Linked DNA regions of Homo sapiens: regions 1 and 3 are each linked to region 2. Evidence: fine-mapped expression QTL. A gene starts in region 2. Each other region holds a variant in brackets. All regions are shown on one strand. Distances are between the middles of the regions.

Region 1 (8,183 bases), 120 kb after region 2:
GGAATCAGTCAGCTAGAAAATATTTACCAAGTGTCTTAGGCTTTTTCACTGTAGTGTGCATTTAACGTACACAGTAAAGAATGAAGGCTGGCACTAAACTGTTAGCTAATCATCCGGTGTTCCATGTGAATGACAGAACACGGAATAAACCTGATGACACCACCACTTTATTTTGAGCTAAATCCTCATTTAAGTGAGAACAGGACAGGTTTCACCACTGCCTCCTTTGGCAACTTGAGTGGTGGTGTTCCCACCGAGTTTATGGCTGCAAAGATAGGTCTTTTCTCGTATTTATGTATAAACAGGTACCAGTTTTGATTTTATTTAATCATTTCATACATTAACATACATGACACATCAAAATGAGAAATGCACAGTTTAACCGTTCAACAGCTGGCCTTACTTCAAAAGAACACTATATTCATATTAAACATTTACAGTCTTTCCATCTAACTTTACACATGTCCTAAATCATTTTCCAGCACTTCTCACATAGAAGTCTAGTTTTGCTCTTTAAAATCACCATCTGTATCACCCCTAGTAGACGCGAGGGTTTCCCCAATTACATGCTGAAGAGAGCCAGCCACCACCCCACCTAAAGACATCCAAGCAGCTCCAGAGCCTGCCTCCGAGGCCACCCCTTCGCCACGGCAGTCTCGATTCCAAGAACTGATTATCTGACACTAGTGAACCAGCACTAAAGGCTGTAGGATGTGACTACATCACAGTTCCAGAAGGAAGGGGGACCATGGCCAAGAGAAGCCCTAAATGACAGAAGCTCATTAAAACCAAGTCCCCCAAACCTCCTGAAACATCGTTAGCAAGGAGCTACTGCTTTCCTTTCTTAAACATGTTTTGGGCATGACCACACTCTGGAAGTGGTGAACTGTTACACATTTGGTGTGTGTGTACATAACATCAAAAACTACTGTGTGAAACTTGAGAATGTCTGATTAAAGATTTCAATGTATATCTAAAAACTAACTCAAATCGTTGACCAGCACTTTCCCAGTATCATAACAATGCGGCTGACCCTCTTCTGCCTTCACTTTACACCCCATCATAGCACATTATTTGTGCACAACTAGTGAGGTCTGTGCGGCTCATCATCCCCATAACCAAGTCGGTCTGTGTTGAGTCATATCATTCTGTGCTGGTTTTAGAAGTCACCATAGGAAACATGAAGTCACATCCTGGTCAAAAAACTGTCCATTTCTCAAAAACAGAGAAAAACCTGAGATACGAGGCAGCAACTAGCGACACTTACAGGAAGGGAAAGAACAATGACAACACCCGCCCAGCCCCACCCCCAAAAAGCTGCTGTTGTGAATTAAGGCTTCAAAAGAGGACCCACATTGTAGCTGATAAAACTCAAGCCAGGAGGATGTTTGAAAGCCAATCTGCACTATCACTTGTTCCAGTGACCTCCTATGTTCAGCTGCCAGGACCGATTCCATACAGTGATTGTAGGTTGAGGACTGAGGACGCCCCTTTGCTCTCGCTCCATTTTGATTTGCTTTTTCCACTGAAGACACGCCGGCCAGCGTTTCCAAAAACAGCTTGGCCATGGCTTTGCACTCTATTCACAACTGATCAAAACTCAATGGTCTTCTCAGCTTTCTCAACCGTTTTATTCTGAATATTCCTTCCTCACTAAAGCCTCTCTCAGCCCTACTAGTAAATGTGAAAGTCTGAGGCAATCATAGAAACATCAGCCCCATCGCATGCCGAGGGGATAAAAGCCACTAAGGAAACAGGTTTCCTGCTTCTCCTCAGCAATTTGTACCTTTCTTAATCTTCCCATAATTTACCTCCCTAGGAAGTTTCCTATAAAATTCTGCCATATTATTACATTTTACCAACTGTATCCATGCAGTGAAGCAGAAAGGGCAAAAACATCTGCTTTGGCTGAGAATTTGAAGGTGCTGCTGCTCTGCTACCAACCCAAATAAATTCACATTTGGCTTGAAACCAAGTTCATCTTTATTTAAAGGATTGACAATCCCATTTTAAACAATTCTTTGATTTACAAAGAGGGAGGTAGACTCGTTAGCCTCCCAACCTTAGCTTAAATCGTGATGTTGCCAGGTTCCTGGTGGTTCAGCTGAATCCTAGACAGTTTCCCTTCTCTTCATAAAGCTGAGAAGAAAAAAAAATTATCTCCATCTAGGCCCACGGGAATTTTGTGCATAGACAGTTTGAATTGGTCTGAAAAGTGTGACTAGCTACCTACCTATTCACAATGCCTAGAAAATGGGCTACCAGATATGGTAGTGGTCAAAGCCCCGACTTTCCTGTCTGAGGTACTGGGTTTGCTCTAAGGTAGACCTTGGCAAGGCCCCTAATGGTCCGTCCAGCAGAGTGATGCTCGTGTCCCTCGGCTGTCAGGTGAGCGTGGGTTTGTGAATCAGCTTTGGATAGGATCATTTCTCTTGGATTTACCACTAGGCTCTGTCCCTAACAGGGTCTACCTACCTGACCCCCAAGCTGGCTCAGTCTCAGCGCTAAGGTGTACTATGGAAGGGTCCGGACAAAGACTAATATTTGAGATCTCTTAGTAGCACAACGTGAAAATGGTAGGGGATTTTGTCCTCCAACACCAAAGACACTTGCTTTTTTAAGAACAAGAGGATGTGTAATTCACTGAATAAAATGGTTTTCCTCCGTCTAGGGGGGATTCTAGCATCTGCCCTTCCATTTTTGTTGAGAGAAGTATTAGCTGATCTCTCAAATGCAGATGTTAAGAGAGTAACAACTGGGTTGATCCACCTGTTGCTTTTACACCATAGCTCCATTTTCCAAAAATATATATGTATGTACATATATATATTTCAGATTTACAGGGAATTTTTTTGTGAACAAGAAAAAAAAATTGTCTATAGAAGTCACAAGTGTCTTTCTTCTCAGGAGACCTCAATGATTTCCATGCTGCCCGAAAAGCTAGACTGACTGCCCACTTTCCCCAGCTCTTCCCGTGACCTGTTCTCTGACATGATGCTCTCTCCAAATTCCATTTGGCAGCTTCTGCGTTTAAACTGCTTTTCAAAGGGGCTCTCTTCATGCCAGCTCCGCCGCGAGTCAGCTCTGTCACTTGGCTTCTGCCGCCTGCGCACAGAATAGACTTGGTCTCCGCAAGTGGGCAGCTGGCTGCAGCTGTAGGCAGAGTAACTGGCACTGCCTCCGTAGATGGCTGAGGCAGAGTAGAAGTGTGAGGACTCTGTGGCAAAATACCAGCTGCTGGTCAGGGAAGGGGTAGAGGTCTGGGGGGCCAAGATATCCGAGTGCCAGCCCTTAAGGCCCAGGCCAGCAGACTTCGTGAGGTGCTGCTGGCTGGTGGAAAGGCCGAAAAGGAAGCTGGTGTGGTAATTGTCCTCCACGCTCCCACTTCGATGCAGTGGAGATAAAAGGGACCTCTGGGCGGTGCCACTGCTGCTGGTTCTGACCGAATGCAATCGCTTGCTCTGGCTGTCTGAAGGCCTGGCGGTCTGCAGCTTCTTGGGGATGCTGGCTTCCTCCTTATCAGGACTGGTTTCGGGAGTCTGCTCCGATAGTTCCTGAACAGGGGAGAACTGGCATAGCTTGTTGGTCCCATCCAGAGTAGTGGAAGGTTTGTAGTATTCCAAAGCATCTTCTGATGAGGAGAAGCCATGTAAGGATGCTGCCATGCTGGCTGAATATGAAACTGATTTGATATCCAGAGAGAAGGAACGCTTGAGCTTATTGCTGTCTTCCAGCCTGTCTGCGGACAGGTGCAGCCCACTGAGCGCCTGTACCAGCGGGCTGTCCTCTAACAGCGACGGCTGCACGCTGGGCACGCTGGGCACGCTGGCGGGATGCACGGGCCTTTGTCCTGCTGCCTCTGAGGTAGCAGAGTCGGCACAGGGTGGACTGAGGGGCGTCTCGCTTTTCTGTCCACCCTCTGAGACAGCAGGGACAGGTTCATTTGGCTTCTCCAGGTGCAGCAGCTTGAGTTTGCTCTTTGGCCCTGATGCTCCAGTCTGGTTCTTAATCTTCTTCTCATAGTCCAGGAGTTGGCCCAGAAAATTGAAGTTTGGAGATATAGTAGGTCTTTTTTCTTTCACAAATCTGCAGAGAGAGGAAAAAACAAAAACCCGAATTTTACAACTACACTTTATCTTAAGAATATTAAGTGAATAAATGAGATAGGGAATTATCAGGCAGACCTCAAAAACTTTGGAAGATGATTGGTTTACAAGTTCGGGGAGATGCTTCAAGGTGGAGAATACAAAGGCCCTAGGCACTGGGGAAGCTTTGCACACATCCTGGAGTATGCCAGAAGAGGCAGCTGGGCCCCAAAGGCTCTAGTTTTTGTCTCCTTATTTTCAAAGGCCCAGGGCTCCCAATGCAGCTGATAAGAGATGGTATGGGGTTTTGTTGGTGGTGGTCTTTTTTTTTTTTAAGAGACAGAGACTTGTTCTGTCGCCCAGGCTGGAATACAGTGGCATGATCATAGCTCACTGCAGCCTCGAATTCCTGGGCACGTGCAGTCCTCCCACCTCAGCCTCCTGAGTAGCTGGGATTACAGGACTACACGCTTGGCTAATTTTAATTTTTAAAGTTTCTTTTGTAGAGAAAGGGTCTCACTGTGTTGCCCAGGCTGGTCTTGAACTTCTGGGCTCAAGTGATTCTCCCACCTTGGCCTCCCAAAGTGCTGGGACTACAGGTGTGAGCCACCATGCCTGGCCAAGAGATGATTATTTATTCACCACCAAGGACACCCCTGACACACACACACCAGTGCTACCATCAAAAGTACAGTATAACAGCCACTCTCCTTCTTCAATTTCCAATGTCATCCCCTCTTAAAGTCA[C/T]CAGTCACTTCTCAAGACAGTTCACATTTTAAATTTAATGACAAAAAGAAGATGGTATCAGATGATCAAAGTATCAAAGCAACACTTCTTTTTATAGTCAACATGACAGACTAACCAAGACAAAGTGGTCTCTGTGTGCTAAGCACTGTGCTTATGCACTGAATCATCATTTCATCCTCAGAACTACCCTTTATCAGGTGGGTGTCATTATCCCCATCATATAGCTCCACAGAATCCTTAAGTGACTTGCCCAAAATCACACAGCTACTAAATGATGGTGCTGGATTCAAAACCAGGCTGGTCAAATATCTGGGTCCATTTTTGTAACCACTATGTTAAAAAAAAGATTCATCAAAGGATCAAAACTAATACTAGATGGCTTTCATGTTTCATGGAGGAAATAAAGACTCAGAGATGACAGACCAATTCTTCAGCGGCCCCTGCACCTCATGGATACTTTTCAGGTGATGGAGGAGTAGAACTACACTGAAAATTTGCATTTGAATAAGGAACAAGGAAAAAAAAAACTTGGAAATCAAGTAACCTAAAGCAAATTCACAAAAATAGAAATAACTGGCTCAAGAATAACAAGTATAAATGTAGGGTGCTCATAATGAGACTTCATAACGTGATAGAAGGGTGCCTTTTCTTCTGATTTCTACATGGAGCAGGAGGACCTCAGGGAGGTCTGAACGGCGGCATGAGAGCTCGTGCAGATGACCAGAGGACCCACGTCCTCCAGGCTGCTGACTTAACATGGGAAGCTGTTTGGGCAGCTCATTTCTGTTTTCCAAACTTTGCAATTTGAGAAAAAAAAAATCCAACTGTTAAATCAGGCCTGCTCCATGAGTCTCTATATTTTTGATTCCTTATCAGATAAAAATGAACCATCTCTACCCAACGATACATGCAGGGGAGTCAGACAAATCAGAGACTGGAGGCAACCCAGTCAAAATCACACACACACAATCTGGCCGACTCTAGAATGTAGGAAATTTTACTGAAGAATGGAGTCTGACAGTTAATCTGGTTCATATTTGCATTTATGAGGCTTTTTCTTCCCAGCAATCCAAAGTTTGAAGCAGAACAGAGATTCTGCAGTGAGCATTCTATTAGAGCTTCCCCCCATCATATGCAAATTAAAACAAAGGATACTTTTGCATTTAGGGAAAGCAATAAACTCATGTAACAGGATAGAGATCTCTGCCTGGATCTGTTGTTCCTTAAACATAAAAAGTGGCTGAGGATGAGTCTGACACATGTGAAGGCAGAATTAATGCTAAATAGTAAAACAGCATTCTTTTCCAATCTTCACAAGACCATTAAAAAATCCACAGTAACCTGTAAAAAATGTGACTAAAATAATCATGATCTGCTTTAATTTGGTTACCCATCCTCATCATTCTTTATGTTTCAGGTCAAATGAAAAGCCAATCACAGAAGACATTTTCCTGCCCTCACCTGTAAGCTTCATCTAAAGACATGTCCATCCTCTTCATGATGTAGGCGATAGCGATGGTGGCGGAGCGGGAGATCCCAGCTAAACAGTGCACTAGAACACATCCATTGGAGGCTTTTGCTTTCTCTGTATAAGTCAAATGCAAGAAAGGTCACTACTAACTATTTTGTTCAGCAGTGAAATCTTGTTTCCATTTACTTACTCAGTGTCTTCCACCTGAAAACCTCTACGCAAATCTCATCTGTGTATATCATATTTATCCTCGCAATATTCTTTTGAGGAGGCAGGGGAAGATAATTCCCTCACCACTGACATGCAGGACAACTGGGGTCCAAAACTGTTTGTTAATAAGCAATTCGTTAATAAGCAAGCTACTACTAACTCAGGTTTCCTGACTTATGTTAGTATTTTCCCCTAAGATATGGGTAATATTTAATATATTCCTGTTATCTGACACTTCAAATTTTTCCCTGATTACCTAAGAAATATAATTACATTTTTTAAAATCATTATTACTATTTTGAGATAGAGTCTTGCTCTGTCGCCCAGGCTGGAGTGCACGATGTCGGCTCATTGCAATCTCCGCCTCCCGGATTCAAGTGATTCTCCTGCCTTAGCCTCCAGAGTAGCTGGGATTACAGGTGTGCAGCACCACGCCTGGCTAATTTTTCTATTTTTAGTGGAGTTGCGGTTTCACCATGTTGGGCAGGCTGGTCTCTAACTCCTGGCCTCAAGTGATCCGTCCACCTCAGCCTCCCAAAGTGCTGGGATTACAGGAGTGAGCCACTGCCCCTGGCCTCCCTATTTTAAGCAACTTTTCTGTATGTCATAAAATGGCTCAACTTTATTTACTGAGTTTTAGAAGAAAACCTTGTATAGGCTATGAATCAGGTTTAGCAGGTCACTTTAATGAGATCCAAGAGAACTTTTATCCCTTCCTTGATACCAGGAGTTATTGTCTTATGGCATTATCTCAATTCCCCACAACATGATGGAAGGACTCACGGACACTTTGTTAGAACCAAAGAACCAAGGAAATCCAAGCAGTGCTGCCATCTCTCACTGCTGAGGGGCTTAACAATATGTACATGTGGCAGGGGACGAGGTTATTCCACACAGCCTGGAAGCTACTAACATTCTGGCCAGTTCCATGACTGCCTCAATTCTAAATAATTACATGTGTGCTCAGTCATGAAGCTGAATTCTCCCCTTTTCATTCTTGGTAGATACTACCAAAAGTCTACTGAACCTTGTGTTAAAATTCTTGCGATTAACAGATGCGCAAAGAATCTTACTTTGGCAGCTGAATAATACAAAGCTATTCAATCTCACTGCCTATGCTATAAATATAAGTTTCTAGTGTAATGATTATTATATATAACATAATTATTCATCATATATAAAGCAACATACAGGTTTTGGGTAGCATATGAATAATTAAGCAGCAAGCAGCTTCCCTTCTAGATCAGGAAACCAAACACAATAAAACACTAACAAATGAATACCAAGCAACACTCAAACAAAGAATTGCATGCTATACAAGTAAGAACATATAAACTCGTGTACACAGTCTCATGCCTTCCTGTGCCTCCAGCATCCCCTTCCTTCTCAGCTATCATTTACCCCACGTTACTCTCAGTGTTTCCTTCCCTTTCTGCCCTACTGCTAAGAAGCTCAAAGCTAAGGTTTCTACTCAATTTCAATAAGAAGTAGCAATTCAGACTTTTTGTCAGTTACTGTACATTTCCTAGCCCCTATTACTTGATTATTGCTCCTTTATACCATTATAATGTGTATGTGTGAGAATATGTGTATCTTTTGGTTCTAACCTATTATTGAAAACTGCTTCAAATCCTTACTGGAAGGAGTCTGGGTTTTTGTTTTTTAATGTT
Region 2 (8,183 bases):
CACCTTGGCCTCCCAAAGTGCTGGGATTATAGGCGTGACCCACCGTACCCGGTGTTTTAAATTATTTGTATAGATGAGGTCTTGCTACATTGCCCAGGCTAGTCTCAAACTCCTGGGCTCAAGCAATCCTCCTGCTTTGGCCTCCCAAAGTGCTGGGATTACAGGTGTGAGCCACTGCACTTGGCTTACTTAAAAATAAAATAAAAACTTTAATTTCTGGCCTGAGTCATAACTTAGAAATTATATCCATTGTCACTTCATTTCCTGAAGAGATTCTTGACACTCTTCTCTGAGGGTTAGAAGTCCCATCTATGTGGAGAAAGATTTCTTTAAAAGTAATCGGAAAACATGTATTAAGCAGCCAGGCGCAGTGGCTCACGCCTGTAATCCCAGCACTTTGGGAGGCCGAGGCGGGTGGATCACGAGGTCAGGAGATCGAGACCATCCTGGCTAACATGGTGAAACCCTGTCTCTAATAAAAATACAAAAAATTAGCTGGGTATGGTGGCGCGCGCCTGTAGTCCCAGCTATTGGGGAGGCTGAGGCAGAAGAATGGTGTGAACCCAGGAGGTGGAGCTTGTAGTGAGCCGAGATCGAGCCACTGCACTCCAGCCTGGGTGAAAGAGTGAGACTCTGTCTCAAAAAACAAACAAACAAACAAACAAACAAACAAAAAAAAAAACATGTATTAAGCACCTGCAGGGGAAACTAAAGACCAGTAATACCAATGAGATCTACCTTTAAGATGTTCATAGTTCAGAAGGAGAAAAAGTAAATCAATGGCTGTGTAAACAGTTAAGTGTGATGAAGGCCAGGTGTAGTGGCTCATGCCTGTAATTCCAGTGCTTTGGGAAGCCAAGGCAGGAGGATCACTTAAGCCCAGGAGTTTGAGGCCAGCCTGAGCAGCATAGCAAGACTCCATCTCTACAAAAAATAAAAATTAGCATGGTGTGGTGGTACACGTCTGTAGTTTCAGCTACTTGGGAGGCTGAGACAGGAGGATCTCCTAAGAGCCTAGGAGGCTCTTAGGAGGCTGTAGTGAGCCATGATAGCATCACTGCACTCCAGCCTGGGCAACAGAGTGAGACCCTGTCCCTGCCCTCCCCAAGAAAAGAATAAATGTTATGATAGAAGATGGCAACTAAAAAGGCTCAGAGAAGGGACATCTGATCCCAATTTCTGGGAAGAGGTGTTAATTATTGAAGAATGAAGTTATTAGCAGATGAGGAGGAAAAGGCTGAATATTTCAGGAATAGGAAACTGCATGACCACAGGAAATTCAGCCTGTTAGGAAGGTTACCAGTGTACACAGAAGAATAGAGAGAGAGGCTGGGGTCAGAGCAGGAAGGTTTTCATATGTTAAATCTTAAACTTTATCCTAAAGGCATGGGGAGTTCCTGAAGGCTTTTTGTAGGGCAGTGACAGGTCCAGAGACCTAATTAATATTCTAGAAAATTATCTCTACCTGCCACAGGAGGGATGGATTGAGGGACGTGAGGCCAGAGGCCTCTCTTCCAAGAAACGGAAGTGATAAGGCCCTGAAATGGGCATGCAGATAGAGGAGAAATTAAGAGGAGAGGCTCTCCAGGACACAACGATTGGTTGGATGCAGTGCTGACAGTAAGCAGGCTTCTGGCTTGGGAGCCTGGTTGGGTGGGAGTACCAGGTCATATAAAGACACGGGAAGAGGAGTCAGTCTGGAGTGGACAGAGGCATGATGAGTTTTGAAAACGTGAATCCTGGTTTTATCACTCACTAGTTGTGTGACCAAGAATAAATCACTTAACTTTTCTGTAAAATTAGGAAAGTGGTATCTACTTTACACGCAGGTCATAATATAGACCTTTTTATGCAGGTCTAACATATAGACCTGCAGACCTGTAAACTCAAAAAGGCTGTTCAATTGCTAGTTATTACATATACAATAACACAGTTTGCTGCTCATGTAGAAGGGATTTTAAAGGTGCTAAAAGACATCAATCTGAAATGTTTCCTAGCTATAAAGCTCTTCCAGCAGACTCCTTATGTTATATAAATGCTCATTTAATTTTCTTGCCACCAGACTGTAAGCTTCCTAAGTACAGGGATTGGGCCTTGTTGAATTTTTTATTTTTAACGTGTAGCAAGTGCCTAGAACATTTCAGGTTCCCAAGAAATGTTAAGCCAGTGAAGGAAGGAATTTTATCTTCATATGTTCTTTTACTGAATATAGCTTTATGGATATGGAATTTGTATACCATACAATTTACCCTGGTAAAGTGTACTCTACAGTGGTTTTTAATATATTCAGAGTTGTGCATTCATCATTACAATTTTAGAACATTTTCATCAACCCCAGAAAGAAACCCCATACCCAATAATAGTCTACATTTCCCTTCCACCCGTACCCCTCCTCGGCCTTAGGCAACACTAACATATTTCTCTCTCTGTAGTGCTTCTCCTGGACATTTCATATAAATGAAATCTACAATATGTGGTCTTTTGTGATACGCTTTGTTTTTTTTTTTTTTGAGACGGAGTCTTCGCTCTGTCGCCCAGGCTGGAGTGCAGTGGTGCGATCTCTGCTCACTGCAAGCTCCGCCTTCTGGGTTCAAGCGATTCTCCTGCCTCAGCCTCCTGAGTAGCTGGAAATACAGGCGCCCGCCACCACGCCCGGCTAATTTTTTTTGTATTTTTAGTAGAGACAGGATTTCAGTTTGTCAGCCAGGATGGTCTCAATCTCCTGACCCCGTGATCCGCCCGCCTCGGCCTCCCAAAGTGCTGGGATTACAGGCGTGAGCCACCGCACCCGGCCTGACAGGCCTTTTTCATATTGAATAATGTTGTCAAGGTTACTCTATGTTGTAGCATGTATCAGTATGATTTCATCCTTCCCTCATTTTGGCTGAATAAATATTCCATGATTACCACACTTTATTTATCCATTCATCAGTTGATGCGACAGACTATCCTTTTAAGAATGAAATGTTTATTCAAAAGGAAGCATAAAAAACACCATCACATCAGTATGGACTGGTGTATGGAACACAAGACAAATATACTTTTATGTGGAAAAGGGGAAACAAGAACCAGAATGAGTTATTCTCCATTCCTCACCCCTTTTACCTCCTCTCTCACCTTCCCCTCAAAGAGGAAATCTGGGAGGGGATGCAAGGACTCTCCAAAAGGGAATGGTCTCACTGCTTAGTGGGCCCTTCCCAGTCCCATCAGCCTGGTGTGGTTTATGTAAACCTCAAGACTAGTTAGACACAACTTTCTAGAAGCCTGCCCTGATCTCTCAGGCAGTTTTTAGTTCTATCTTCATATTCCCAGAGAACACTGTACTTAGATTCATTTGCATTTTTCTCATTGTATTGCAATGGTGAGCAGAGGAAAGAGCATCAGATAGTCCTAAATAGTTCGACCACTGACCACCTGCTGACCATGGAGGAGTCACCTACTTACAGGCTGCAGGGTTGTTGTGAAAATTAAATAAGGTAAAATAGGGGAAATTATTGTGATATAGTAGAGTGGAAGGGACTTAAAAATCATTTAGTCAACTTGACACTTCTTCTGAGACTTTTTTTTTTTTTTTTTTTTTTGAGACGGAGTCTCGCTCTGTCGCCCAGGCTGGAGTGCAGTGGCGCGATCTCGGCTCACTGCAAGCTCTGCCTCCCGGGTTCACACCATTCTCCTGTCTCAGCCTCCCGAGTAGCTGGGACTACAGGCGCCCACCATCATGCCCGGCTAATTTTTTGTATTTTTTAGTAGAGACGGGGTTTCACCATGTTAGCCAGGATGGTCTTGATCTCCTGACATCGTGATCTACTCGCCTCAGCCTCCCAAAGTGCTGGGATTACAGGCGTGAGCCACCCCGCCTGGCCAGAGACTACATTTTATACATATAAAATCTCAAGGCATTTACTTGAAATTTCTTGACGCAGACAATGTAATATAAAATGAGTTGCAAAGTTCGGAGAACGCTAGAGCCAGCTAACTCCTTGATGGCATTGCATTGCTAGGTCTACTTTCTTGCCCTAGCAAAAATGGCAGTTTCCTTTCTGGATTACTCCCTCCTCACCTTCTGTTAGTTTCAGAGTGACTTGTTGATAACTGCCAAGGTCCCCAGAAAGCGCCTAGCCAAAAAGGTTCTTCACTTCTCTTTAAAGATGTGCACTCCCTAATACATGAAACAGCATTTTCTATTTCTTAATTTTTCTCTCATTTCCAGCTGCTGCTTTCACCGTCTTCTGGTATTTTTTTGTTTGGTCGTCCACTGCTAAACTCCCAGCTCTTCAGAATTCAAAATGAGCTTTGCATCCAAGCTGTTGTGGGTTCGAATCCTGGGTCTATCTAGCGTTTCTTTCTCCATCTGTAAAACAGGGTTAAAAATACCTATTTTGTAAAGTTGTTCTCACATGTGGGTATTGAAGAGCTTAATAGTGTGGGTGGTGTTTTAAAGGTGACGCATCCTTACAACAGGAAAGGGCTTACCCTCTTCCGCAGTTCTGGCTTCGAGGAGGTCAAGCCCTTTAAGGTGGCATCGCCCTAAGTCGCAGGAGCGGGTCTCTCCGCCCCTCCCTCGGGCCGGGGGGCGGGGCCTCCTAATCCGGAACTGAAGGTCTTGCGTAGCCGGCACCGCCCATCTGCGTCCCGGAAGGAGCGAGCTTGCGGAGCGTGAACCAGTGAGTGAAAGCGGCGCCGCCCGCCGGCCGCAGGTGCGGCAAAGCCAGTGTCATCTGCCGGTTCTCTTAGGGCTCCCGGAAAGAAGGAGGGCTAGCCGCGTGCGTTCGCGCCGCGCCTCCTTGCGTTTCTGTTCCCCAAATAGGGCCTCTCCTTCTCCCGCCGCCCAGGCCCCTGCGTGGGCTGGACGCGTCAGCCCCACACATTAGCCTCGCTGCGGCGCCCAGACTCTGCTTTGCCTCCCCGTCCCGGTCCCTGGCCCCTGCCCTGTCGCCCGCCGCCGGAGCGGTGACCGCCCGGCCCGCCGTTCTTCTGCTGCCACCGCTGTCGGCACCATGGGCAGTGAGCAGAGCTCCGAGGCCGAGAGCCGACCCAACGATCTGAACTCCTCAGGTCGGTGTCCTAACCTCCCACCCTCCTCCAGCCCGCCCTGTCCCCTTGCAGAGCGGGCTGCCTCCCAGACTAGGGTCAGGGACTGCGGACGGGAACGCACAGAAAAAGCCTTCACCGTGCTAGTAGGAAAAAAAAAAAGTCACCATCTGTCCTGGCCTCGATTCCCCTGATGGAAGTGCGTGTGACTGCAAGCTAAGCCAGCGTGGGCGCCAGTGCCCTTATTTATTTTCAAAACAGCCGTTTCTCCCAGCTACAGCCTCCTGTTTAAAAGACGAGCTAATTAATTTTTGGCTCTAGTGCTCATGGCTGATGTAGTGAGATTTGGCTCACACAGTGGATGGATTATAGGACCTCTAAGAACAGTCTGTTTCTTAAAAACGGGTGTTAGAGGTTCCTTTTCTGAAGGGATATGTGATAGGTGTCCACTTGCTTTGAACCCTTTAGTGCAAAGGTCTCCAGAAACAGCTTTTTCTTCTCAGAAGGTGTCTTGGTCCGTTTTCTAATCTTGTAGAGGTTGGCCAGACAGCAGGCACTGGTGTTTTCCATTGTTGTTCTCTGTCCATGATTTTTAGACTTCTCTAAGCGTTTGAGACAAGAATGGGAGGATTATTGTGTTTGCAATACAGTGAGTGTTCAATAAATAGATAAAGCAGCTGATGTTTAATTGAGGACCATTTGCTGCTTTTTTTGTTACCCACACGCTAGGACAGCTGGGAGTGCTTTGGTTAAGCTCCGGGGTTGCTAACGCAAATTGGTTAAATCTGGGGCCTAAAAAGAGTCGCCGATTTTAGAAGTTCTCTGTTCTTGATAGGAGCTGTAATTCAGAAATAGGCAAGCTAATAGATCTAAGGGTGTTTCACTTTAAGGTGTGACTTTCAAGACTAGTTCAGACCTACATTCTGGGGACTGGATTGGGGCAGCTTTGAATGGTGAGCAGCATCTACTAGCTTTGCTACGTTTTTCTATTTCCTTGGAAGGGCCAGAGTGTCATATCTGTTATAAGAAATATAATAATTGCCACCTTTGACATTCTTGCCTCTATGGCAGGGCAGAAACATATTTTAGGGGGAAGCGGTGTGGCATCTTTTTAATTTGTTTTCTTGCCCATGAACCAACAGCATTCGAGCATTTCCGATGTTAGAATTTGCCTATTCCCCTGTGCCCGGTACTTTACATACATTTACATATAATTTTTGCAGTAATCCCATTTTACAGATAAAGTAGTAGAGGTTAGCTAGAGTGTTTTGAAGTCCCCTTTCCTCTGGTATCTGGGGAAGGAGGAATCACAATTTATAGCAGGAAAGATTTCTGGCATGGCTTTTGTAAAATGTTAGGTAAATTACCAAAACAGGTAAATAAATATTTCTTGAAAAGAAATAAAAGCAGCAGAGATTTTTCTAGAAGAGTGAATGCCAAGCCTCCGGAGACGAGCTTCTAGGAGGCAGAACAGTTCTATGGCATCCCTGGATTAACCTTTGAGATATGACTATAATGAGCCTGGGAATATTACCTTCTAGAGCATAAAACACTTTAAAGATTCATTCTTGTCCCAGTCTGGAAGATATTTGGGGGAGAGGATGATTTCTTGGTCTAGGGAGTCCTTTATAATTTGAATCACTTCCCTCCAAATGGATTACTTTCTCCCAAGGAACCTGAATTGATCTCCCTCTTTGTCCTCCAAATTTCTGATTTTTGCCTCAGCCTAGAATGGACTTACTGGCTATTTTTGCCCTGGACTAATGCTATAATTTTAAGAGTGAGGGGGCTGTAGTCCTAGCTACTCAGGCCCAGGTGGGAGGATTGCTGGAGCCCAGGAGTTTAAATCCAGCCTGGGCGATGTAGTGAGACTTGACTCTTTTTTTTTTTTTTTTTTTGAGACAGTCTCACTGTCACCTAGGCTGGAGTGCTGTGGCATGATCTTGGCTCACTGCAACCTCCGCCTCCCGGATTCAAGCAATTTTCCTGCCTCAGCCTCCCAAGTAGCTGGGATTACAGGGACATGCCACCACGCCTGGATAATTTTTGTATTTTTAGTAGAGATAGGGTTTCACCATGTTGGCCAGGCTGATCTCGAACTCCTGACCTCAAGTGATCCACCTGGCTTGGCCTCCCAAAGTGCTGGGATTACAGGCGTGAGCCACCGTGCCCAGCCGCCTTGACTTAAAAAAAAAAAAAAAAGAGTGAGGAGGCTGAAGCCTCGGGAATAGGCCAGTCATTCGGGGGTTGAGAACAGGTTTTTTTCCTGGACTTACTAAACATAGCTGGCTTGATGTGGTAGGGTGGATAGACAGCTTTGCAACTCCAGTGTCGCAGAGATGGGCCTTGTGTACCAATAACTTGTAGATGTCTAATTCCTTTCCTAACTGTCTAGCACTGCTGACTTTGGGCAAGTCACAGTTAAATTTTGTACCCTTTATTTCTCATTTTAGAAATAGGGAGATATATATATATATCTCAAGATAGCAGGAGAATTAAAGAGAAAGTAAAAACAATCTGCCTATACTTTTGTGTGCTGAAAAAGAAAATATTTAGTTATGAAAGAAGTTCATTCATGTTATATAATCCTGTAATGGGCTGGGCGTGATGGCTCACACCCGTAATTCTAGCACTTTGGGAGGCCGAGGTGGGTGGATCACGAGGTCAGGAGTTCGAGACCAGCCTGGCCAATATGGTGAAACCCCATCTCTACTAAAAATACAAAAATTAGCCAGATGTGGTGGTGCATGCCTGTTGTCCTAGCTACTCAGGAAGCTGAGGCAAGAGAATTACTTGAACCCAGGAGGCGGAGGTTGCAGTGAGCCGAGATTGCACCACTGTACTCCAACCTGGCGACAGAGCGAGGCTCTGCCTCAAAATAAAATAAAATCCTGTAATGTCTGAGGGTTTTTGTTGTTGTTGTTGTTTTGTTTTTTGAGACTCTTGCTGTCTTACCCATGCAGTGGTGTGATCATGGCTCACTGTGGTCTTGACCTCCTGGGCTCAAGTGATCCTCCCATCTCAGCTTCCTGAGTAGCTGGGACTACAGTGTGCACCACCACATCTGACTAATTAAAAGAAATTTTTTTTTTTTTTTTTTTTTTTTTTAGAGATAGGGTCTCACTATGTTGCCCAGGTTGGTCTTGAACTCC
Region 3 (8,161 bases), 110 kb after region 2:
TGGGGTGCACCTGCATTTCAGCAGCAGCAGAGTGGAGGAGGGGACAGTGAAGAAGAGAAGCAACAAAGAGTGCATGCCGGCTGCCTTTCCAGGAAGGTGCCTGGAAGCTGCCAGGAGAGACTTCTGCATGCACACACCACTGATTATAACTTGGTCATGTGTCACGGCAAGGCGAGGGTTTTGAGGCAAGAGTTGTGGAGAATAAAGAGTTGTTCACTTTCTATTTGAAAATCAGCTAGTTTATTCATTTAATTTTTCTTAAGTTCCTGAAACAAAGTTATTTGCAATTTATATGTTTCTGGGCCTGAGTTTCCTGGAATAGTAAAGTCATGTTAACAGAAACAGTGGAAAAGAAAATTCATGTTAATGTACACGGTAAGCTGTGTGGGTGTAAGTAGTTTTGGTTCTCAATATCTATCCTAGGACCTCGCATAGTGCATGGCACATGGCACGTGATGCTACTCAATAACTGTCTGTTGCCTGTGTGGTAATAGCTCACACTTACCCAGTGCTCACTGTGTGCTGGGCAGGATGATAATGTTCTCCTTGCAGAATCTCATTTAATCCTCAGGACAGTCTTTTAAGTGGCCACTCTTGTTATCCCCACTACCTTGCAGATGAGGAAACCGAGGCTTACGTATATTTTCATTCATTTATTCAACAAATATTTATTCAGGACCTGCTATGTGCTGGGTACTGGAGATATAGCAGGGTTTAAAGCACACCAAATCCTTGCTCTCATGGAATCAGCCTTCTGGGTAATTTTCTAAAATCACATAGATACTGGGTCGAGGGTAGCCCTTAAACCTAGGTGGTCTGACTCCTGAACTTGCAATCTTAACCGTTGTTTTATTGGTAGATGAATGGATTGATGAGTGTGGTGAACAAAAATTGTGACTATCCATTTCACAAACAGCTTCGTGGTTGCCCTTTAGCTCCAGCTTGGATGGTTAGATTGCCCTGTCTGAAGCTGGATTTATTTTATTTTATTTATTTTTGGAGATGGAGTCTCGCTCTGTCACCCAGGCTGGAGTGCAGTGGTGCGATCTTGGCTCACTGCAACCTCTGCCTCCTGGGTTCAAACGATTCTCCTGCCTCAGCCTCCCAAGTAGTTGGGACTATAGGCGCACACTGCCACGCCCGGCTAATTTTTTGTATTTTAATAGAGACGGAGTTTCGCCGTGTTGCCCAGGCTGGTCTCGAACTCCTGAGCTCAGGCAATCCGCCCTCCTCAGCCTCCCAAAGTTCTGGTATGAGCCACCACGCCTGGCCAAGCTGGGTCTTTTGAATGGCTATGGGTGCTCAGTGAGGCAACCCTAGGTGATATCATAACACCTCTGCTTATCCAGAAGACAATTAGTATATATGTTATCTTGTTAGAATCCATGTGCCAAAAATAGAAATAGGAAAGGCAAATAAGGATATATCCCTAGATTGTCAAAATGGTGATTCAGAATTGTGTGAGATACTGGTTTACTGCCTACAGTCACATCAAATGTGTTACAATGAGCATGTGTCTGGGGGTTCGTGGAGTAAAGGTAGGGATTATGGATCAAGGACAATGTTACCTCAAGAGCAAAGGTCAGAGACATCAAAAATAGGCATCAACAGTTTTACCATCCTTTTCCAGATAGTCCATTGTTGCTTGCACCAAGTTGAGACTTTCTTTGCAACAAAGAATGGGGGAAACATTTAAAAGGTAATAACTTTCCCTACATGTGATCTAGTCTTCTTTAATGCAGTGCCACGTGCCAACAAAAGTCTCATAAAGCACCAGTGATACAGGGTCTTGCTCAGGAAATATGTGTAAAAGAGGGGAGCTGCTGGACTTCGGAGAGCTGGGGTCCAGTGTAGGTTCTGTCACTGTGAGATCTTCAAAGTCACGCAAACTCAAGTTTCCTCTTGCGGTTTTTTTCTTCCATGGAGCATAATGGAAGTAAGACATGATGTCAGCACGCATGAACAACCTGTTTGAACTCAGTGTGCTCATCTCAGCATTAACAGAAAGTGCCTTTACAAAAGCTTTGGAGACATTAAACACGGGCCCCAGCTGGATGTGGAAACATGTAGGGAAGTACATGCCATTTGACAAGTACCTGTGAAGATGGCTGTGAACAGTCTTCATCAGGTGTGAATCGGGGATGGATTGACTGCCAAGGACTTTAGACTTGATAAGTTAGAGCCTTGGAGGCCATTTCAGATAGAAACTCTTCAAGCATCTATCTAGTCTGGTAGGGTTGCGGGGTGGAGGGCCAGGAATGCCCTGCCAAGTAAAATGTGATGCCCGAGAAGGTTCCCAATTCAGGATTCCACCTGGCTCCCACGAGCCCCGCTGTCTCTCAGGTGTGTGGAGTGTTTCTCAGTGCTCATTGCAAGGCCACCCTGAAAAGGCCCAGCGGGTGACTGTCAGGACCACAGGACTCTCCTGGCTCACTACTTCCAAAGTGCTGAGCGCCAGACAGGGCTGCAGAGAACCCCGGAAAGTGTGCATTGTTTCCACATTATTTGGAGTTTCTCACTCCCATGTTTTTTTTTTTTTTCTCTTCTCCTTCTCCCCGTGCCCAACTAGCTGCTCCTCCTGCCCTGCAGGCACTCAAGCAAGAGGCCCGCCAGAGGACAGCAACACTGATGTGCTTCGGTCGCCTCCCGCCCCTCCTGCCCTCCCCACAGATGATAGCAAAAGGGAAATTATTTTTTCTTGGGGCTGGCTTTGGTCCCCCGTGTTTTCATGAGTTTGTTTTTGTGTCTCTCGAAGCCATTTTCAGAGGCTCTCTGGTACCGGGTGTTGAGCCCTTGTCCTGATGCAAGGTCGGGAAGGGGCGTGCTCCAGGAATAAACCAGAAGGAAGGGCTGGAGGAGCCTGGGAACCTTGGGATAGGAGTGTGGGCCTCAGTAGTTGAGCTGTTTTCTCCTGGCCTGGGAAAGAAACAAGGGGTGAGGGGGTGGAAGTGGGGTCCATGCTGAGGAAGGGGTGCAAGTGCCCAACACGATGGCGGTCTCTCTCTCTATTTTTATCTGGGTGATGGGTACTAAAGAGCCTCTGTAAGGGGAAGAGAAGAAGTCACGCAAGGGCAGCCCAGAGCCCGCAGTTTCTTTAATGGGGGAGAAGGGCACATGAGATAGTCCTCACAGTTTGACAAATGTGGTGTGTTGTAAGGACGGGAGCCTTGGTTGCATTTTTGGCCCTGGCAGGGAGAGCCTCCCTTCCATTGCAGTGTTCCCCGAGTGTCCGCCAAACTGCAGCCGTCCAGGGAAGAGAAGGATTGAGTGAAGAACATGCATTTTGGGGTTTGGGATTTTTGTTATTGTTGTTAGAAACAGGGTCTCACTGTGTCGCCCAGGCTGGAGTGCAGTGGCATGATCATGGCTCACTGCAGCTTCGACCTTCTGGACTCAAGCCATCCTCCCACCTCAGCCTCCCAAGTAGCTGGGATTACACGCACACACCACCACGCCCATCTGCTCCTAGTTTTTTTCTAGATAAGCAACCTGAGACACAAAGGATAAGCATTAGCAGCTCATACACGTGACAGAGCCAGATTCAGCCTTGGCCTGACTGATTTCCACATCCAGAATTCCCCTCATATAGGGAGATAGAAATCTCAGGATCTCAACAAGGTACAAATAACGCACATTCCCAGAACATAGAGCCAGGGACAGTCCCCTCTCAGTTCTCTTCTAAAGGTGGTTCTGGCACAACAGTTGATAAAGCTGTGTCCCTGAAGGGCTTTTTAGCCCTGGGTGCTTCCTGTAAAACTTGTCAGCTTCCACTGGATCTGCGGGACTGTGTCCCTCACAGGCTGGACACCCGGCCCTGCGGAGAGGACTTGATTAAACAAGGTATAATGTACTTCTCTTTCCCATCCACAGATGGATCTGTCTGTAGAAACTCTGTTCAGCTTCATGCAGGAGCGCCAGAAAAGATACGCCAAGTATGCCGAGCAGATCCAGAAAGTGAACGAGATGTCCGCCATCCTCCGCCGCATACAGATGGGCATCGACCAGACTGTGCCCCTGCTGGACAGGCTCAACAGCATGCTGCCCGAGGGCGAGCGGCTGGAGCCCTTCAGCATGAAGCCCGACCGCGAGCTCAGGCTGTAGCTGCTGCCCGGCCTGCCTGGGGCTGGGAGCCCCAGACACCGACACCCTGAGGACGTGTGGAGCTAAGGTCATATCATCTGACCAGGTCTGGAGGCTGG[C/T]GGGAGGCTCCCTGAAAGTGGGTGCGAAGGAGTCCGGCTGGCATGAAAATCTGACTTTGCCCAGCTCTTTTCCTTGATGCAGTTTCCCGGTGTGGAAGGAACCTAACCAGTTCTCGGTGATAACTGAAGCTGGAACGTGTGAATTATTAGGAATTCTTTGAAGAACTCTGCATTGAGAATTATTTTTATTTAGTTTTTTTTTTTTTTTAATTGAGAGTATATAGTCCAGTCCAGGTACCGGAATAAAAATATGGAGACAAGGGGAAAATATTTTACGAAGCTCTGTGTTCTCAACGCCCTCATGAACTTTTCAGTAGGCTGTCTGGTTTATGTGTGGTCAACTTGAAAAACTAATTGAATCTAGGTCTCTGTATTGTTCCTGTTTCTACCCTGACTGTTTCCGTCACACCAAGCCCTTATCTGGGGCGCGTCTTCCTGCCCAGGTGGAACACTGGCATTTTGTTGACTGTCAGGTTAGGTGTCCCTTAGTCGTCATCAGAAGCTGAAGCCTTCCTTTCCACACCCTCATCAGATTCATCTCCACTGATAACCGGTTTCCTTGATGCAGACATAGTTTAGCTTTCTTTGACTGCAGAGATGTCTCATTCCACAGACATTTCTTGAACCCATTTGATGTGTCCAATATTGTGCCAGGGATACAAATATGGCCGTATAGCCTCAGGCCTTCATTTCTGAAAAGAAAAAAGCTCAAAAAGCTGCTGAATTTCTCTGGGAGTTTAGGAAAGGAAGTTATTTGAGTAACAACAAAAGTGCTTAGTGTCGTACTTTACACATCATAGGTGTTCTAATGGAAGCAAGGACTGGAGAAGCAAAGAGTGGAATGTGAGGAGCAGACCTAGGCAGACACCTTGAGACTAAAAGTCAGAGCTGAAGGGAGTCGCTGGGGCCAGGACGGCATGCAGGCCTGTACCCTGTTCCCTAAGTTCCTGCAAGCGTCGGGAGGTGTGTTTTCAGATACCAGAAAGAGCCTTCAGTAGATTCACAAGATTAAAATTGATGCGCTTAATTTAATGTATCTTGGCTAAACTTGATCTGATTCTAATCTTGGTTTGAGACAGGGTCTTGTGCTGTTGCTCAGGCTGGAGTGCAGTGGCGCAATCATAGCACACTGACTCCTCAAACTCCCGGGCTCCGGGGATCCTCACGCCTCAGACTCCTGAGTAGCTGGGATTACAGGTGTGTGCCACCAAATCCAGCTAATTAAAAAAAATTAATTAATTTTACATTTTCAAATTCAAAAGAATAATACAATGAATATTCATATTTCTTTCACCTAGATTGACAAAAAGTGGTATATTTAAGACATCACCATCATTGTCTTTCTTCTGGAGTATACAGAACCTGGTTCTGAACACAGGGATATGTTTGTAGCTTCGAGGAATGAAGGGCTGTTTACAGAGCTACAAAAATAGCTTAGGTGCCATTATCCTCACTGCACTTAATACAGGTGACACATGAAAGCACAGAGTGGGTGGCAGTTCAAGCCTGCGAGGGCCGAGCCTTTCCACTGCTGCAGCTGTTAGTGGCTGGCACAGGGCAGGATGGCAGACCTAGTGCAGCACAAACAAACCACGCAGTCAGCCAGCTCTCCAGCCAACTGTGTCTACTTCTAAAGTAGAAGTTAGACAAAACATGGGGTTCACTTAGACTGGGGTCCTGAGTAGGTGATAGGCTACTTATTACTGGGTGGAAGCGGAGAAGTATGGCAGAAGAACAATAGGCAAATTCAATACTCCCGGAAAGAATTCTAGTTAGTTTAATATTTTGATGGCATGTTGTGGTTTCTGCAGTGTCGTGAACTTGGCTAAACTGAACTGTGTTCCCAGAATTCCCTTCCTTGTTTGTTTCTCTGGTGAGGGTTGGCCACGAGAGAGATTTGCATGAGGTTTGGAAGTGGAAGTAGAGCAACAGCCATGTGTATTCACTGGAAGTGGATGTAGGTCAGGCCCTGTTCCATCACGTGCACGTTACCATGGATCTCCTGCACTTGTGGTGTGGGCAGCCGCTGGGCCCACGGCTCCTCCCACTCCCGCAGAACTCTGCCTTTGGCTTTTCCAGACCCTGGGCCGGGTATGAGAACCAGCTTCTTGGTCTGCAGCCACAAGGATGAAGGTTTGGGGATGAGAGACCAGCACGGGCTCTGATGAGAGACAGGTGCAGGTCCCAGCTTGTGGCTTGCAGGTCTCAGTCGTACTTGCTCTCCCTCACCATCCTTTCCAACCGCCTGGCCTGTGGTCTGGTGAAGAAGAAACAGCCGAACCGAGACTTTCACCAGCCCCTCTAATTGCTCAAACCGCTTTCACAATCCTCTCTTTCTACATCATTCCTAGTGGTTCTTTTCTGATGGAACCTCTGACTGGTAACATGGCATTACCAGTCCTTTCCCTCTCATGTTTTGCTATTTCCTGATGGAACCTGGGAGTCTGAGTGATTTGTATTTCAAGAAGCAGTTATGCTGGATCTCTTTGTTGGTTAATACCCCATGACCTATCTGGCCGTTATGGGATATTTCAGGGATAGGAGTTGTGAAAGAGCCCTTGGCTGGACGTTTCTAGCCTTAATCTTTGGCAAGCCATTTCATTTCCCTGAGCCTCAGTTTCCGCCTTCCTACAGCGTGAGCAGGTCTGGGTGGGCTCTCAAGCCCCTTTCAGCTCTAAGATTCCAAGTCTGTGATTCCGATACATCTTGACTACAATGAGCGTGTTTACCTTTTGTCTCTGAGCAGTGGCCCTGGGTCTTGGTAGTGACTAAATTCCGAGCTCCCAAGGTGCAGCTGCTTTTCTTCCTTTTAATTATAAATTAGCTGTTCATTGGCTGCTTCTTTCTAGAGCCTGTTTTGCTTATCTTGCAATCTGTTCATTTCTGTTGATGAACACAGTCAAATAGGCCTCTATGTGCAGTCTCCTGGTTTCCCTGGTCAAAGTGGAAGGTTGGTAGAAACTGGCCTTCATGTCTTTGTTTCCCTCAAAGTTTTATTCTTAGTAACGCTATATATGGTTTTATAGACCACACATATATAGTTTCCTGTGTCTTAGATGATAACATCCTTAAAATATGAAATATATTTTGAACCTAGATACCTACCCAGTATTCTCTGCACAGAGTAAACATTTCATTAAATGAGTTTCAAGGACTCCATACCCTGATATAGGAGTACATTCAAGAAATGAGTTTAGGCCGGGCGCGGTGGCTCACACCTGTAATCCCAGCACTTTGGGAGGCCGAGACGAGTGGATCACCTGAGGTCAGGAGTTCCAGACCAGCCTGACCAACATGGTGAAACCCCATCTCTACTAAAAAAAATACAGAAATTACCCGGGCATGGTGGCTGGTGCCTGTAATCCCCGCTACTTGGGAGGCCAAGGTGGGAGAATCGCTTGAACCTGGGAGGCGGAGGTTGCAGTGAGCCAAGTTCGTGCCATTGCACTCTGGCCTGGGTAACAAGAGTGAAACTCCGTTTAGAAATGAGTTTAGTCTGGGAGAATCTGCTTTTTGAGTAAAAAAGTTTGATTTTATGTATGTGTGCGTCTGTATATATGTTTCTGTATCCTGAGTATTTCTTTGCGGCTTCTTCAGTTATGAAAGAGGTTGGTACTGTTACCCTTACGTTATAGGTATTACAAACTCGGTTTTACAAGGTTACATAAACTAATGGCCCTGGGGCGAATGACGTATGCCACTTTTGTGTTGATTTGTAGAACTTACTTAGCTTTGGCATTTCCCCTAGTAATTCCCAAGGCAAAACCAGGAATTGTCAGAGACGTGACCAGACATGTATTAAAATTCTAGTGCAATTGGGAAACTTGGTCTTCCTGATTTGTTTATACTTCAGCCAAACCCAGATATATAGTGCTCAGCAGAAATTATTCAAAATGTTGATACTCAAGATTGAAGGATGGATTAGGGAGAAATGAAAACTTTTCTTCTTGTGGACTTTTTAG

What was found. PIP is the estimated chance that this variant, and not a neighbour inherited with it, causes the effect.
Region 1: its variant is fine-mapped to the expression of BORCS5 in whole blood (TOPMed, PIP above 0.99).
Region 3: its variant is fine-mapped to the expression of BORCS5 in whole blood (TOPMed, PIP above 0.99). The same link has a PIP of 0.9 or more in blood mononuclear cells.

Annotation. Positions count from the first base shown.
Region 1 is chr12:12,473,930-12,482,112 of GRCh38, forward strand. It overlaps DUSP16 (dual specificity phosphatase 16), which reads right to left. Exons shown (of 7, transcript NM_030640.3): 6 at 6,294-6,417; 7 at 1-4,086. The coding sequence ends at 2,904. Among named protein-coding and RNA genes, the nearest start is that of DUSP16, 85 kb to the right of the region's middle. The variant C/T (reference allele first, on the strand shown) is at 4,833.
Region 2 is chr12:12,352,455-12,360,637 of GRCh38, forward strand. It overlaps BORCS5 (BLOC-1 related complex subunit 5), which reads left to right and starts at 4,624. Exons shown (of 4, transcript NM_058169.6): 1 at 4,624-5,055. The coding sequence starts at 4,998. It overlaps LOH12CR2 (loss of heterozygosity on chromosome 12, region 2), which reads right to left and starts at 4,613. Exons shown (of 2, transcript NR_024061.1): 1 at 4,474-4,613; 2 at 2,954-4,351. RefSeq lists a cis regulatory region at 1,354-1,789, enhancers at 4,409-5,087, 5,974-6,053 and a silencer at 4,954-5,033.
Region 3 is chr12:12,461,676-12,469,836 of GRCh38, forward strand. BORCS5 (BLOC-1 related complex subunit 5) reads left to right here. Exons shown (of 4, transcript NM_058169.6): 4 at 3,871-8,161. The coding sequence ends at 4,101. Among named protein-coding and RNA genes, the nearest start is that of DUSP16, 97 kb to the right of the region's middle. The variant C/T (reference allele first, on the strand shown) is at 4,200.